Linked DNA regions of Homo sapiens. The protein of the gene in region 1 interacts with the protein of each later gene in a biochemical or structural test. Each region holds a gene or a part of one and is shown on either strand. Other genes may lie near its edges.

What was found. The genes of interacting proteins can lie anywhere in the genome.
Region 2: the proteins of ANAPC16 (region 1) and CDC27 are reported together in a solved structure, tested with the Homo sapiens proteins (one study listed by BioGRID).

The regions. Positions count from the first base shown.
Region 1 is NC_000010.11:72,231,895-72,236,901, reverse strand, and holds the end of ANAPC16 (anaphase-promoting complex subunit 16), read right to left. Parts: intron 3,902-5,007; coding exon 3,786-3,901; 3' UTR 1,042-3,785; downstream 1-1,041. UniProt on the Homo sapiens protein: Component of the anaphase promoting complex/cyclosome (APC/C), a cell cycle-regulated E3 ubiquitin ligase that controls progression through mitosis and the G1 phase of the cell cycle.
Region 2 is NC_000017.11:47,136,570-47,145,227, forward strand, and holds part of CDC27 (cell division cycle protein 27 homolog), read right to left. Parts: intron 7,414-8,658; coding exon 7,314-7,413; intron 5,868-7,313; coding exon 5,660-5,867; intron 5,457-5,659; coding exon 5,284-5,456; intron 2,323-5,283; coding exon 2,170-2,322; intron 792-2,169; coding exon 583-791; intron 577-582; exon of another isoform or gene 1-576. UniProt on the Homo sapiens protein: Component of the anaphase promoting complex/cyclosome (APC/C), a cell cycle-regulated E3 ubiquitin ligase that controls progression through mitosis and the G1 phase of the cell cycle.

The DNA of each region.
Region 1 (5,007 bases):
GCTGGATAATTGTGAAGTCAAAATGGGAAATTTTTGTACGACTGTGTAAAACTAGCTATTTTACTGTTGATATCTCATTACGAGACAAAACAGTTATATAGAATTATGTGTCAGATTGATATGAATAATTTTTTTTTTGAGGCACAGTCTCGCTCTGTCGTCCAGGCTAGAGTGCAATGGCTCGATCTTGGCTCACTGCAACCTCTGCCTCCTGGGTTCAAGTGATTCTCCTGCCTCAGCCTCCCGAGTAGCTGGGATTACAGGCATGTGCCACCATGCCCGGCTAATTTTGTATTTTTAGTGGAGATGGGGTTTTTCCACGTTGGTCAGGCTGGTCTCGAACTCCTGACCTCAGGTGATCCGCCTGCCTCAGCCTCCCAAAGTGCTGAGATTACAGGTGTGAGCCACTGTGTCCTGCCCCATATTGAATCTTAAGAGGGTATGCAGAAGCCAACATACAGCTAATTCCTGTTTCTGAAGAAGCTGTTCCTTCCTCATGCTCAAGATCTCTTTTTGCCAAGCCCTGGGAGGGAGGACGGAAGGTAGCGGAAGCCTTATTTTCTCCAGGTAGTTACTTCCTTTTACCATTTAATCAAAAGTTTTAGGATTTTTCCTAATACAATGTGCTGGGTTGGGTTTGGTGGGATGTGGCATAGTGAATCTAAAAGAAGCTGCTTTGGATTCTGGCTGAGTTGAACTTAAATCCAGATTTGGCCATTGACTTAGCTGTGCAGCCTTGGCAAGTGACACTTGCTCTGAGCTTCAAGTTCCTTTTCTATATTAGGGGGTATTACGTATCTTGCTGTGTTATTCAGAGGATTATAATTCATGCCTGTGAGTGACTGGCACAAGAGAAGACAGATGACAGATCAGCAACTGGGACCATCTTTGAGCCCAAAGCATAGTAACAGGCGTTGTGGACGATGCAACATAATGACTGACAAAAAGGTATAGAGAGGGAGGTACTCTCTTTAAAAAATTGTGAGAGTCTTATTCTTGGTAAGACTAAAATAGCAGCTAAGTGATCAATGAGAAAGGTGCTTCAAAAAGCATTTTTGTTTAATGCTAAGATCACTTCAGTTTCCAAGGTCATATAAAGAAACATCCAATTTAGAGAAAAAATTCTGTAATAAGTTCAAATACCAAAGCGTAAAGATGATGTAACACAGTGCCTATGCTGCATGGTTACACAAATGAAACGAGAAAGGTAGTGATTGCTTCTAAATTCTCACTGAAAATCCAATTTAAAGGTTTATTGCAGTCTAGGTATTTTTAATTTTTCCCTTGGTGATTATCAAGATGGTTGATGCTAATAAGTACTATTAAAAAACTAAAATGCTGTCGAATATGGAACTTCTTTTAGTTAAGAATTATTAATATAGAAAATGTGAGTTGGTGGACTGGTACTTCTTGTGCTCTGATTTTTATTTATTTATTTTCTTCTTTTTTTTGAGACAGTTTCGCTCTTGTTGCTCAGGCTGGAGCACACAGGCACGATCTCCACTCACTGCAACCTCCGCCTCCCGGGTTCAAACGATTCTGCTGCCTCAGCCTCCTGAGTAGCTGGGATTACAGGCGCCCGCCACCACGCCTGGCTAATTTTTTTTGTAGTTTTAGTAGAGACAAGGTTTCACCATGTTGGCCAGGCTGGTCTCGAACTCCCGATCTCAGGCAATCCGCCTGCCTCAGCCTCCCAAAGTGCCGGGATTACAGGCGTGAGCCACCACGCCCGGCTTTATTTTTTTTTTTTTGAGACAGAGTCTCGCTCTGTCACCCAGACTAGAGTGCAATGGTGTGATCTCAGCTCACTGCAACCTCCGCCTCCTGGGTTTAAGCGATTCTCATGCCTCAGCCTCCTGAGTAGCTGGGATTACAAGTGTGTGCCACCACACTGAGCTAATTTTTGTATTTTCAATAGAGACTGAGTTTCACCATGTCGGCCAGACTGGTCTTGAACTCCTGACCTCTAGTGATCCACTCACCTCAGCCTCCCCAGGTGCTGGGATTAAAGGTGGGAGCCACTGTGCCCAGTCTCCAATTTGCTTTAGAGGCAATAATGAGATGAATTATCAGGCAACTGGGATCTATTCCAAGTCCGAGATTTTCTTCTGCCTGGGCTATGTGACCATGAGCAGGTGTTTAACTTCACAGGGCTCAGGCTCTTAACCGACTGAATGAGGTCACCACCTCCCGTCAGGTAGAATGTGTTAAACATTTTGAACTCTTGAGATTAAGGCTAAATGCTACTGGGATTATATTTACTTATAATTAAGCAACTCTAAGCAGATCAGATGCAAGTTATTAATAAGGAACCAGACAAATGTTGTCTAAGGCAAAATTTGCATACAACGTAATAAATGATTATACCAGTTGTTTACTGTGGAAAGTGGGGTCCCATGAAGGAAAACAGCACATCTCTTAGCCTTCCAGGTTTTCCCCTATCATGGTATAAAAACTTACTTGAGGCCAGGCGCGGTGGCTCATGCCTGTAATCCCAGCACTTTGGAGGCCAAGGTTGGGGGGATCTCTTGAGGCCAGGAGTTCAAGACCAACCTGGGCAACATAGCAAGACCATGTCTCTTTAAAAAAAAATTGGCTGGGCAAGGTGGCTCACGCCTGTAATCCCAGCAATTTGGGAGGCTGAGGCAGGTGGATCACCTGAGGTCAGAAGTTCGAGACTAGCCTGGTCAACATGGTGAAACCCCGTCTCTACTAAATATACAAAAAATTAGCTGGGTGTGGTGGCGGGTGCCTGTAATCCCAGCTACTTGGGAGGCTGAGGCAGGAGAATTGCTTGAACCTGGGAGGTGGATGTTGCAGTGAGCAGAGATCGCGCCATTGCGATACAGCCTGGGCAACAAGAGCAAAACTTCGTCTCAAAAAAAAAAAAAAACTACTTAAATATCATTAAGATAAATTTATGTACTCCTATAAAGACAAATATCCCTTAAGTAAAGCCAGTCTACCATTTGTTTAGGAGAGATGGTTTTTAGATTCCCTTCTTCTAAAAAGTAATTTGACCTCTTCACTTCATCCCAAATCCCTGAGATTTTGAAAGGATAATGCCACCAATTTGGAGCTCTTTCAAAGGATTTATTTGCTACAGAATTGCTTGAGTCCACCAATGAGAAGAACTCAGGATTTCTGTGTTTAAAAGGATTTTGCTTACTGCTTTATTTTTACAAGTGCTGCCATATCCAAAAAGCACTTCTTTTTGCCAGCATTTGGCATGTCTATAAGAGGTTAGAAAAAGTCAGAATCTATAGAATTGATGTCTAAAAATAGGAAAAAAAAAAGAATATTTAAAAATTCCTCATTTGGATAGGTCCTGAGTTGAAAACACATTCATCTGCAAAATAACTTTTTTAGGTCAGAATGCTATATTTTTAACCACAGATGCTGACCTTGACCTTGACTGGTAAATATTTCCAGGCACCATATGGATGACAGGACAGACGCCATTCAGTTGGCCAAATCTGATATATGCCCTACTTGGCTTGTGAAAATTTTTGAGTATCTCTTAACCCCAAACCTCCTGGTTCTCTGAAACTGATTGTCTTAATCTGATTCCCAATACTTTTAAAAACAAATAAACAAAACATTCCCTGAAAGATCACACATATAAGTATTTGTTGCCTGTGAATAGATACAGAGAAACCAAGTACAAATGTGCATTAACAATTCAGTGACGTAGCTGTGGATCTCTGGATGGCTATGTAAGCTGTGAGAAAGTCCCCCACTGGCTTTGCACTTGCTGCGCACCAGAGGTGACCATCCAGGCAGTATCAACCTGAAGAGGGGGTGAATCCCAGCAGCTGCTCGATGGGCTTAAACCGCCACTCGTCAGCCTCCAGCTCTTCTACCAAACCAGCTAGTTTTTCCATCCGAGCAACTTGCTGATCTGTAAGGAGTCAAGGAAAGAATATTATGCAACAACGTATTACCCAAGAGACTGCCACCAGCCACCAAGATGATGACTGGTATAAAAATAATTTCTAGGCCGGGTGTGGTGGATCACGCCTATAATCCCAGCACTTTGGGAGGCCGAGGCGGGCGGATCACGAGGTCAAGAGATCGAGACCATCCTGGCCAATATGGTGAAACCCCATCTCTATAAAAATACAAAAAAAATTAGCTGGACGTGGTGGCATGCGCCTGTAGTCCCAGCTACTCGGGAGGCTGAGGCAGGAGAATCGCTTGAACCCTGGAGGCAGAGGTTGCAGTGAGCCGAGATCGTGCCACTGCATTCCAGCCTGGTGACAGAGTGAGAATCCGTCTCAAAAAAAAAAAATTTCTAGATGGATTTTTTTTTCTCCTCAAGATTCTCTCTCTTTTTTTGGGGGGTGGGGTGGGGGTGGGGAATGGAGTCTTGCTTTGTTGCCCAGGCTGCAGTGCAATGGCGCGATCTCGGCTCACTGAAACCTCTGCCTCGTGGGTTCAAGTGATTCTCCCGCCTCAGCCTCCTGAGTAGCTGGGACTACAGGCACCCGCCATCGTGCCCAGCTAAGTTTTTTATTTTTGTAGAGATGGGGTTTCACCATGTTGGCCAGGCTAGTCTCGAACTCCTGACCTCAGGTGATCTGCCTGCCTCAGCCTCCCAAAGTGCTGGGATTACAGACGTGAGCCACTGTGCCCGACCCTCAAAATTCTCATAATGGGGTCTTATTCTATGCTGGTCAGAAGCTTAATTTTTTTTTTTTTTTTTTTTTTTTTTTGAGACAGAGTTTCACCCTTATTGCCCAGGCTGGAGTGCAATGGTGTGATCTCAGCTCACTGCAACCTCTGTCTCCTGGGTCCAAGCGATTCTGCTGCCTCAGCCTCCCGAGTAGCTGGAATTACAGGCATATGCCACCATGCCTGGCTAATTTTGTATTTTTAGTAGAGATGGGGTTTCTCCATGTTGGTCAGGCCAGTCTCGAACTCCCGACCTCAGGTGATCCGCCCGTGTCAGCCTCCCAAATTGTTGGGATTATAGGCATGAGCCACCGTGCCCGGCCTATTTTTTTT
Region 2 (8,658 bases), on another chromosome or scaffold:
TTTTTCATATCTTATTCAGTTGATAACAATATGACCTAGGTAGTAATTTCCTATGTGTCTACTTATACACAAGTACAAAAAAGTAAAATAGAGATACTGCTAAATAAAAGGGTACACTAAGTTCTTAATAGTAACTCAATAAACCAGAACACTGTCAAAAAGCAGCAACTAGTAAATTTTTTCAATTTTTTTTCCTATTATCCAATAAGTGAATTATGCTATTCCTTTCCAATTTCCCAAGCACTTTTCATCCCAATCACCATTTCGGTGTTCGAAGAAAAAGCAACAAAGTAACAAAACTAAACAAACAAAAAACAACTACAGTATCTGCAAAAGTTTGGTAGAAGGCTGAAACTGTTGAGTATAAGGATCTGGTATTCTATTATCATTAGTTAATTTAAGAGTTTGTTAAAGACGTACATTTCATAAGAAAACATTTTAGTTAGAAGTTATTGACCAGTATGTACCATCCCTAAGTATAAGTAACCAAATTCATGATAATAAAGAGCTATCTAACAAGAAAAATTAGTAAGTACCAGCACCATCAATACGACTTTGTCTTTGTACTTCATTACCACTTACCATGCATTATAATGTCTAGGATTGACTCTGATAGCATTTCGAAAACAAGCTAATGCTTTGTCCAATTCTTCAGTTAAGACAAACTCATGCCCTAATAGAGTATAGGCATAAGCGTAATTTGGATCAACTTGGATAGCTCTCTGGAAGAATTTAATTGCAATATCATGTTCCCGTTGCAGACTGAAACAGTTCCCTGCAGCACACCAGGCCTTAAAAAAATGGGAACAAAAACCAAACAGAATTAAAATTTTACTTTTTCTAAAACCAAATCTATGACTAAAATCAAGCCTCAACTTAGAACAGAAAGACAAAAATGGAGGAGCTTCAGTAGATACTCAATTCTAATTATTCACAGATTCCATATTTGTGAATTTGTCTGATTGCTAAAATTTATTTGTAAAACCAAAATCAATACTTGCAGTGCTTTCATAGTCATCAAAAGGTATGTTCTCATTTGAGGTTGAATAATGTGACTCTACCTTCTTGTTTTAGCTCTCATGCAGAGATGACCAGGGACAGAAACTCTGTGGGCTAGTTTAGTGTAGTGCAAGAAGCTTTGGCTCTGGGGACAGTTGGACAGAATTTGAATCCCACTGCTGGCACTTTTAAGTAGGATGGCTTCAGGCAAGTCACCTCTGAACCTCATTCTCTCTCTTTTTTTTTTTTTGAGATCTGGTCTTGTTCTGTTGTCCGGGCTGGAGGGCAGTGGTGTGATCTTGGCTCAATGCAACCTCCGCCACCTAGGCTCAAGTGATCCTCCTGTCTCAGCCTCCCGAGCAGCTGGGACCACAGATGCCAGCCACCATACCTGGCTAATTTTTGTATTTTTTGTGGAGAAGGGTTTTGCCATGTTGCCGAGGCTGGTCTTGGAACTCCTGAGCTCAAGGAATCCGCCTGCCTCAGCCTCCCGAAGTGCTGGGATTATAGGTGTGAGCCACCACACCCAGCAGCATTCTCTCTTTTGTAAAGAAAATAGGATCTACCAGGATGAGTTATTTTTAGGATTCAAGATTATAATCCACAATCTATCTCTGTTTCAAACTCTCCATCACTCCCAGGAACATTGGTTCAGTAGCACTAATTCAGTGTTCATGTTGACTACAGAATTACCGCAAATAATGGGAGTTGACTGTGTTTAATTCTAAGCTTAGATATGTTACAAAAGTATCATTAAATATTTTTGAGATGCAATGAAATACAATCTTACAAGATTAGAGCATGTACATTAATTGCACCTATGTCTTACAATGACAATACTAATTTATTTTAATTTAAAATTATTAATTTTTTCAATCTATGTAACTTCTGCTCAACGAACCCTAATCTTGGTGACAACAGCAAATTTAACGTAGTCAAATCTCGATAAATCCTGAATGAAATAGCTGCTTTGTGATTTTTCTATTTGTGAATCTGCACCACACATTCTAGGACTTTCTCTTCCTCTCTGAGTCCCTGACTAGAGAGAGAGGAAAAAAAAGAAATAAGCGTGGGTGACACTAAATAGTGTTTGAATTGCTTGGTTCATCTCTATCTGTTGAGGGTGATCAAAAAGGTAACTATATAAGCAAAGTATTTTGGTTAACATACCTCTGGCGAATTTTTATCCATGTCTGTTAAGTCTTTTGACAGAACTGAAAGAGCAACATCTTTTTGAAGATGCCAAAGTGTTGTAGAGTAGATCTCCATGCCTTCAACTCTATAATTCTCAATCCTTCTAACCTCTGAGAATATTCTTTCAGCCTGAAATAAAAAAAACTAGTAAGAGAAAACAAGTTGATACAATTTATATATATACACAGGGAAAGCCCTGGTCATTATCTTCACAGGATCTAAATGCTGCCTTGTATTATGGTTTTTATGTGAATGAGTATTAACACAAGGACAAATTCAGCAATCTACTATGGCAGGTCAAATAGTGATGTAACCATATTGACAGTCAACCTAGTATTTATATACAAGCCATGGTAAGAACATGAACTCTGAAAAGGAAATTTGAGTTTCTACCAAAAAGACCGAAGAGAAATCTATACAAAGCTACAATTCAAAAGAAAAGTCAATATTTCCTTCTCAAAAACCTCATTTCCAAGTTTTAATAATGGCATTACAGAATAACTCTTTTTTTTTTTTTTTTTTGAGATGGAGTCTCACTCTGTCGCCCAGGCTGGAGTGCAGTGGCGCAATCTCGGCTCACTGCAAGCTCCGCCTCCCGAGTTCACGCCCTTCTCCTGCCTCAGCCTCCCAAGCAGCTGGGACTACAGGCGCCTGCCACCACACCTGGCTAATTTTTTGTATTTTTTAGTAGAGACAGGGTTTCACCATGTTAGCCAGGATGGTCTCGATCTCCTGACCTTGTGATCCACCCGCCTCGGCCTCCCAAAGTGCTGGGATTACAGGCATGAGCCACCACACCTGGCCAGAATAACTCTTTTAGGAAAGATGATGGAAGAATGATTTCTGTAACATAAAATCTATTTTTGAACAATTTTTACCGAGAGGTTGTGCCAGAAAATTTAGAGGGAAGAAACAGGTTAAGCTGGCTATCAATCCTATGGTTATAAATCCTATTGAGCCCTGAATATACACACCAATATTGTGTCTGCTAGGAATCATAGGCCCTACCTATTAATTATCCTTTCCTTTGCAGCACTCTCTTGACTTCAGGGTCTCTCCTCAGCTGCCTCATCAATTTTTTTCCTCATCACATTCACAGCTCCCAGAACTGTGTTTCTCTCCCTCTAAAGTTTGAGGATTTAGGTTATATAAAATCAGTTTCCTAGTTTATCAATTTACCAAGTTCAAAATTCTCAGCTGCCAGAAAAGGTCTAGGTAATAAAAAAAAAAAGAAAGGAAAAGAAATTTTCACAGTTTAGTTTATAATAAGGAATATCTGGACTATTCTTAATGAAATGAGTATGACAGAAAATAAGAGCATTTTAAAACTGAGTGCTTAATTCCAAGAAGTGGTCATATGATATATAGGAATAGCTTAACGATTTGTAACTTCCTTGCAATCTCTTAAAAGTTATAAAGGTAAGTGTGCAGCCTTGACCTGCAGGGCTCAAGTGATCCTTCCACTTCAGCCTCCCAAGTAGCTGGGACCACAGGTGAGTGCCACCACACCCAGCTAATTTTTTCATTTTTTTGTAGAGACAGGGTCTCACCACATTGGCCAGGTTGGTCTCCAACTCCTGAGCTCAAGTGATCCCCCTTCCTTGGCCTCCCAAAGTGCTGGTATTATAGGCATGAGCCACCACACCTGGCCAAGTTTTTCATTCAGGCATGGTAACAAGATAAAAGACCTACCAGCCAAATATAGGTAGGTACCTTTTGGTTTCAAAGTTTTCAGAATCTGTTGCTTCCTCTGAAAAATGATTATGGCATAGACAAAAAGAAAAATGGGAAAAAAACTCAGAAATTAAGTTGAAACAGAGGCTTTCTTTAATTAAATATTTGGGTCACCACTATAACTAGGGGAAACAATAAAATTCATTTATGTTAAAGTAGCTGTGAAACAATAAATTAGAAATAATTTTTTAAATGGCTTTTCCGAACACAGCTCTTGCCTGTCTGTGTATATGCTACATACCAGTAAAGGACCATAATCGAAACATGGGTTTTGTAGCAATGAATAAGACTTTCTGTCTTCAACTCTCTGTTCTGTACTATTCAAAATTAAATTATATGAATAGGTATCCTCTGTATGTATTCCCTGTGGGAAAGAACACCTTTCCCCTAGATCTTTGCATGGATCATGAAGGGAAGAGTAACCTTCCCTCTGAGTACATAAAAACAAAAACACCATACTTCATTGTCTCCCAGTTTCCTCACCATGCTTCATTTTTCTTCATGACTTATTGCTACCTGTTCTTATACATTTATTGGCTTATAATCTGTCTGTTGCTAGAATGTAAGCTCCACAGAGGCAAGAAATTGTCTGACTAGCTGTAATACAGAGTCTAGAAGAGAGTCCAGGATATCATATGCACAGAGATATATATTGAATAAATGAACTGAAAGCAAATTAAGCAAAAAACGAATCATATCAACTTTAATCCATATTAGAGATATTTTATTAATATATAGGTTTCTAAAAGGTTTCTTTTTTTAAGTTGGGGGTGGAGAAAATGCTTTGGGAAGAACTAAGGGGTAATATAAATTGGGAATTAGAATTTTCTTTGGCTTTAGGTTAATCATTCTCTCCTTTTCTGGTATAGACAGATAACTTAAGCAACAAATTTAATTAAAATCCAAAGAGTAAAAAGCCTTGTATTAAAGACATTGTGTCCTCAATTCAGCACAATTTTCTTTATAGCATTCTTCAAGCTTATAAAACATATTCGATGTCAAAAATTCACCCCAGTAATTAACTCTGTATATTGCAGAAAAATAAATAAATCCTATTACATGGTAAATATAAATATGTATTTTCAGACACAACTGAATAGGACACACTCTACGTAAGAATGTCTGGATGACTTGGGTCTCTATAAACCTATTCCGAGAAGTTGCAAAGAATTTAAATTACTCCTTAACACAAGAAAGAACTATATCTATAAATTATAAATACTGACAAAATAAATATATAGACATTACATAATAAATACTGATCTTTTAGATCTAGCCTTCTTAAGCATGGGCATTTATTTTAATGAAATTGAAATTATCTCTAGAAAGGCATATATAACCATTTTCTATACTTACTTGCATGTACTCTGAAAGTTCAAAATAGGCCCTTCCAATTTGGCACAGTACCCAACCAGTATTGTAGTGGTGAGAAGGTAGATGGCTCAAAATATTTATAGCTTCTTTGCAGTTGTATGAACACAAAGCTAAATAACCTTTCCCCATTTCACGAAGAAGGCTCATCAAACCTTCTAGGAGAAAACAACATAGTAAACAAAGGAAAAAACGCAATAAACTAGTCTGCTTCTCTAGAAAAGGTAATTACAAACTAATCTATTAAAAATTCCAACATCTATATAAAAAACAATGAAGGTACTGTAATGAACATAAAGAAATTTACTTAAAATAAGTACATAATAAAATACAAAGATAATATTAAGCATTTAAAACAGACCTGCTGCTGCTTTTTGTAGATTAAAGGCCTGAATCTGAGGTGTGATTGTGGATATTTTCCCTTCTGAAATGATGGAAGAGTCCAATTTTGTAATTTCCAGGCTATCATTTATGTTAGGTTGAGTTATTCCTCCTTTATTAGTTTTACTTTTTGTTTTTCTGTTTGGGATTTTAGGTGGAAACTTCATTTTTAATTTTTTGCTATTCTCCTGTAAAAGGGAAGAAATTTCACACCTGTTATACTCATGTATTTTAGATTTCTCCTCAGCCCTTTCTCCAGTATTAGATATAAAATAAATGTACAATCTTGATTAATTCTATATTTTTTTCAGAAGAGAGTTTATAAAAACAAAGGTCTTCAAAGTCATTTAATTTTAAACACAGTAATTCTGAACATAAATTACATTAACTAATAGTGACTAAGGTGTGTCAGCATTAAGTGTAGCCCTCTTGTGAAAGTATATCAAACTCTCATTTATTATTTAAAAGTAAGAAAATAAGTAGATGTAATTCTCAGCTCACCGCAACCCAACCTCTGCCTCCCGGGTTCAAGCGATTCTCCTGCTTCAGCCTCCCGCGTAACTGAGATTACAGGCATGAGCCACCACGCCCGGTTAATTTTTATTTTGGAAGAGACTGGATTTCTCCACGTTGGTCAGGCTGGTCTCGAACTCCTGACCTTAGGTGATCTGCCTGCCTTGGCCTCCCAAAGTGCTGGGATTACAGGCATGAGCCACCGTGCCCGGCCTTTGTTTTGTTTTTGGGACAGGATCTTATTCTGTTGCCCGTGCTGGAGTGTAATGATGTAATCAGAGCTCACCACAGCCTTGACCTCCCCAGGCTCAAGTGATTCTCCCACCACAGCCTCCCAAGCAGCTGGGATCAAAGAGTACTACCATCCCAGCTAATTTTTTTTTTCAGAGATGGGGTCTTGCTATGTTGACCAGGCTGGTCTCAAACTCCTAAGCTCAAGTGATCGGCCCACCTTGGCCTCCCAAAGTGCTAGGATTACAGGCGTGAGCCACTGCGTCCGCCGGGTCTCCAGTTTTTTTTAACTTTTATTTTCAAATAATTTTAGACTCACTCTTCTGCAAATGATAACATGTGACATAACCATAGTATATCATCATACCCAGGAAACTGAAATTAGTACAATATTATCAGCTAAAGACCTTACATGGATTTCATCAGTTTTTATATAAACCCGTGTGTGTGTATGTGTGTGCATAGTTCTATAAAATTTTATCACGTGAATGGATCTGTGTAATCAACCACCACAATCAGGATACAGGACTGTTGTACCACCACAATGCAATTCTTTTGTGCCATGATTTAATAGTAACATCCTCCCTAGAGGCCTAACTCCTAATAATCACTGATCTGTTGTCCATTCCTATAATTTTGCCATTTCAAGATTATTCCTATGTCATTTTTAACTTGAGAAAAAAAATTTTTTAATTAAAAAAGAATATTATATAATATTTACCAAAGGACTAATTAACTTCACAAAAATCATAGATGGCCCTCTAAATTAAAACATTTTAAAATTCGAAATAGTCTCTTTGTTAACTTATTAGGAATGGAGTCATCAATGAACAGAAATGTTAGCAGGCGAAGCATTAAGTAAATGTGACATACAGAAATCTTTAAATTACCTTGGTTGTGGAGCTGTCACTAGTAAAGAGTCGTGAACTTCTTCGAGGCAGTGCGTTTGGGGGAGATGTAATAGTGGGGCTCAATACCTGAGGTGTTGTACTAAAAAAAAATTATAAAGGAAGACATTAATATTTTACTTGATTTATGACCATTAACCATTGTTTCAATTTGGGTATATTTTAAAAATATACATTAATTATATAAGTACTCTAAAGTTGATGAATTTGATCAGTTCTTTTCGTGGTTTCTCTATGAAAACACAGTATTTAAAAATGAGGGACTCGGACTGGCTTTCCTGCTTCTCAGCTTGCAGATGGCCTCTTGTGGGACTTCACCTTGTGATCATAAGTCAATAATCCTTAATAAACTTTCCTTCATATAAAAAAATAAAAATAAAATGACTCGTTACTACAAAATAGTAAAGATTATAGCATAGATCTTCACTCTCTCTGAAATTCTTAATTTGAACTAAAAATAATCCTCATAAAACTCTGGATCGACAAATGATAAGCACATCTATAAATCAATTATTTTTACCCTTCATTTGCAACTACAACAAGTTAGAGAAAAAAGAAAAGACAGTTGGGCAAAGATAGTCTAAATGTGGGGTATTTGTTAACAAGTAAATACCACTAGAACTACTAATATTTGAGAAGTTATTTCCCTGTAAATTCAAACAGCTATATCAAAGGCTTATTCTCTTTAGAGCGAAAGGAGCCTCTGTACATTTTTACTTTAAAGGCAAACCCTGAGATATGAGAATTTCAATCTTAGCAAGCAAACTTAAAATCTGAAACAATCTAGAATTGACAGTGGGTAAACTTGTGGACTAAACTATCTAAACTTTATAATTTATGGGAAATCCTACTAGCTACCTGAGTCTGGGTCAAAGAATTTCAGAAAATAAAAAGATATATATTTTCATCTTTTACGATATGTACATATGTAATATGTACAGATACCTCTGTATATGCATGTGTGTGTATATCACACACACACACACACACACATAAATCCTTTTAATCTGCATCTGATAAACTAGGAGTTTGATAACGAAAGGCTTCCAAAGTTCAGAATTAGACTTCACTTCATATGGAGCAAATGACACACAACCTTTCTTGGATGATTTAGCTAAAAGTACTATGCCATTCTAATCATCTCTAAAAAAACTTTCTAAATAGAAAGAACAGACTTCCGCTAGTCATGACAGAGTAAAATGGAATAAATTTATTCTCCCATTTCAGATAACTACAAACTGAACCAAATATATGGAACAATGGTTTTCAGACACTGGACAATAGGCAAAACATTTCCGAGGACAGTTCTAGGGCCACCTTGCAGGAA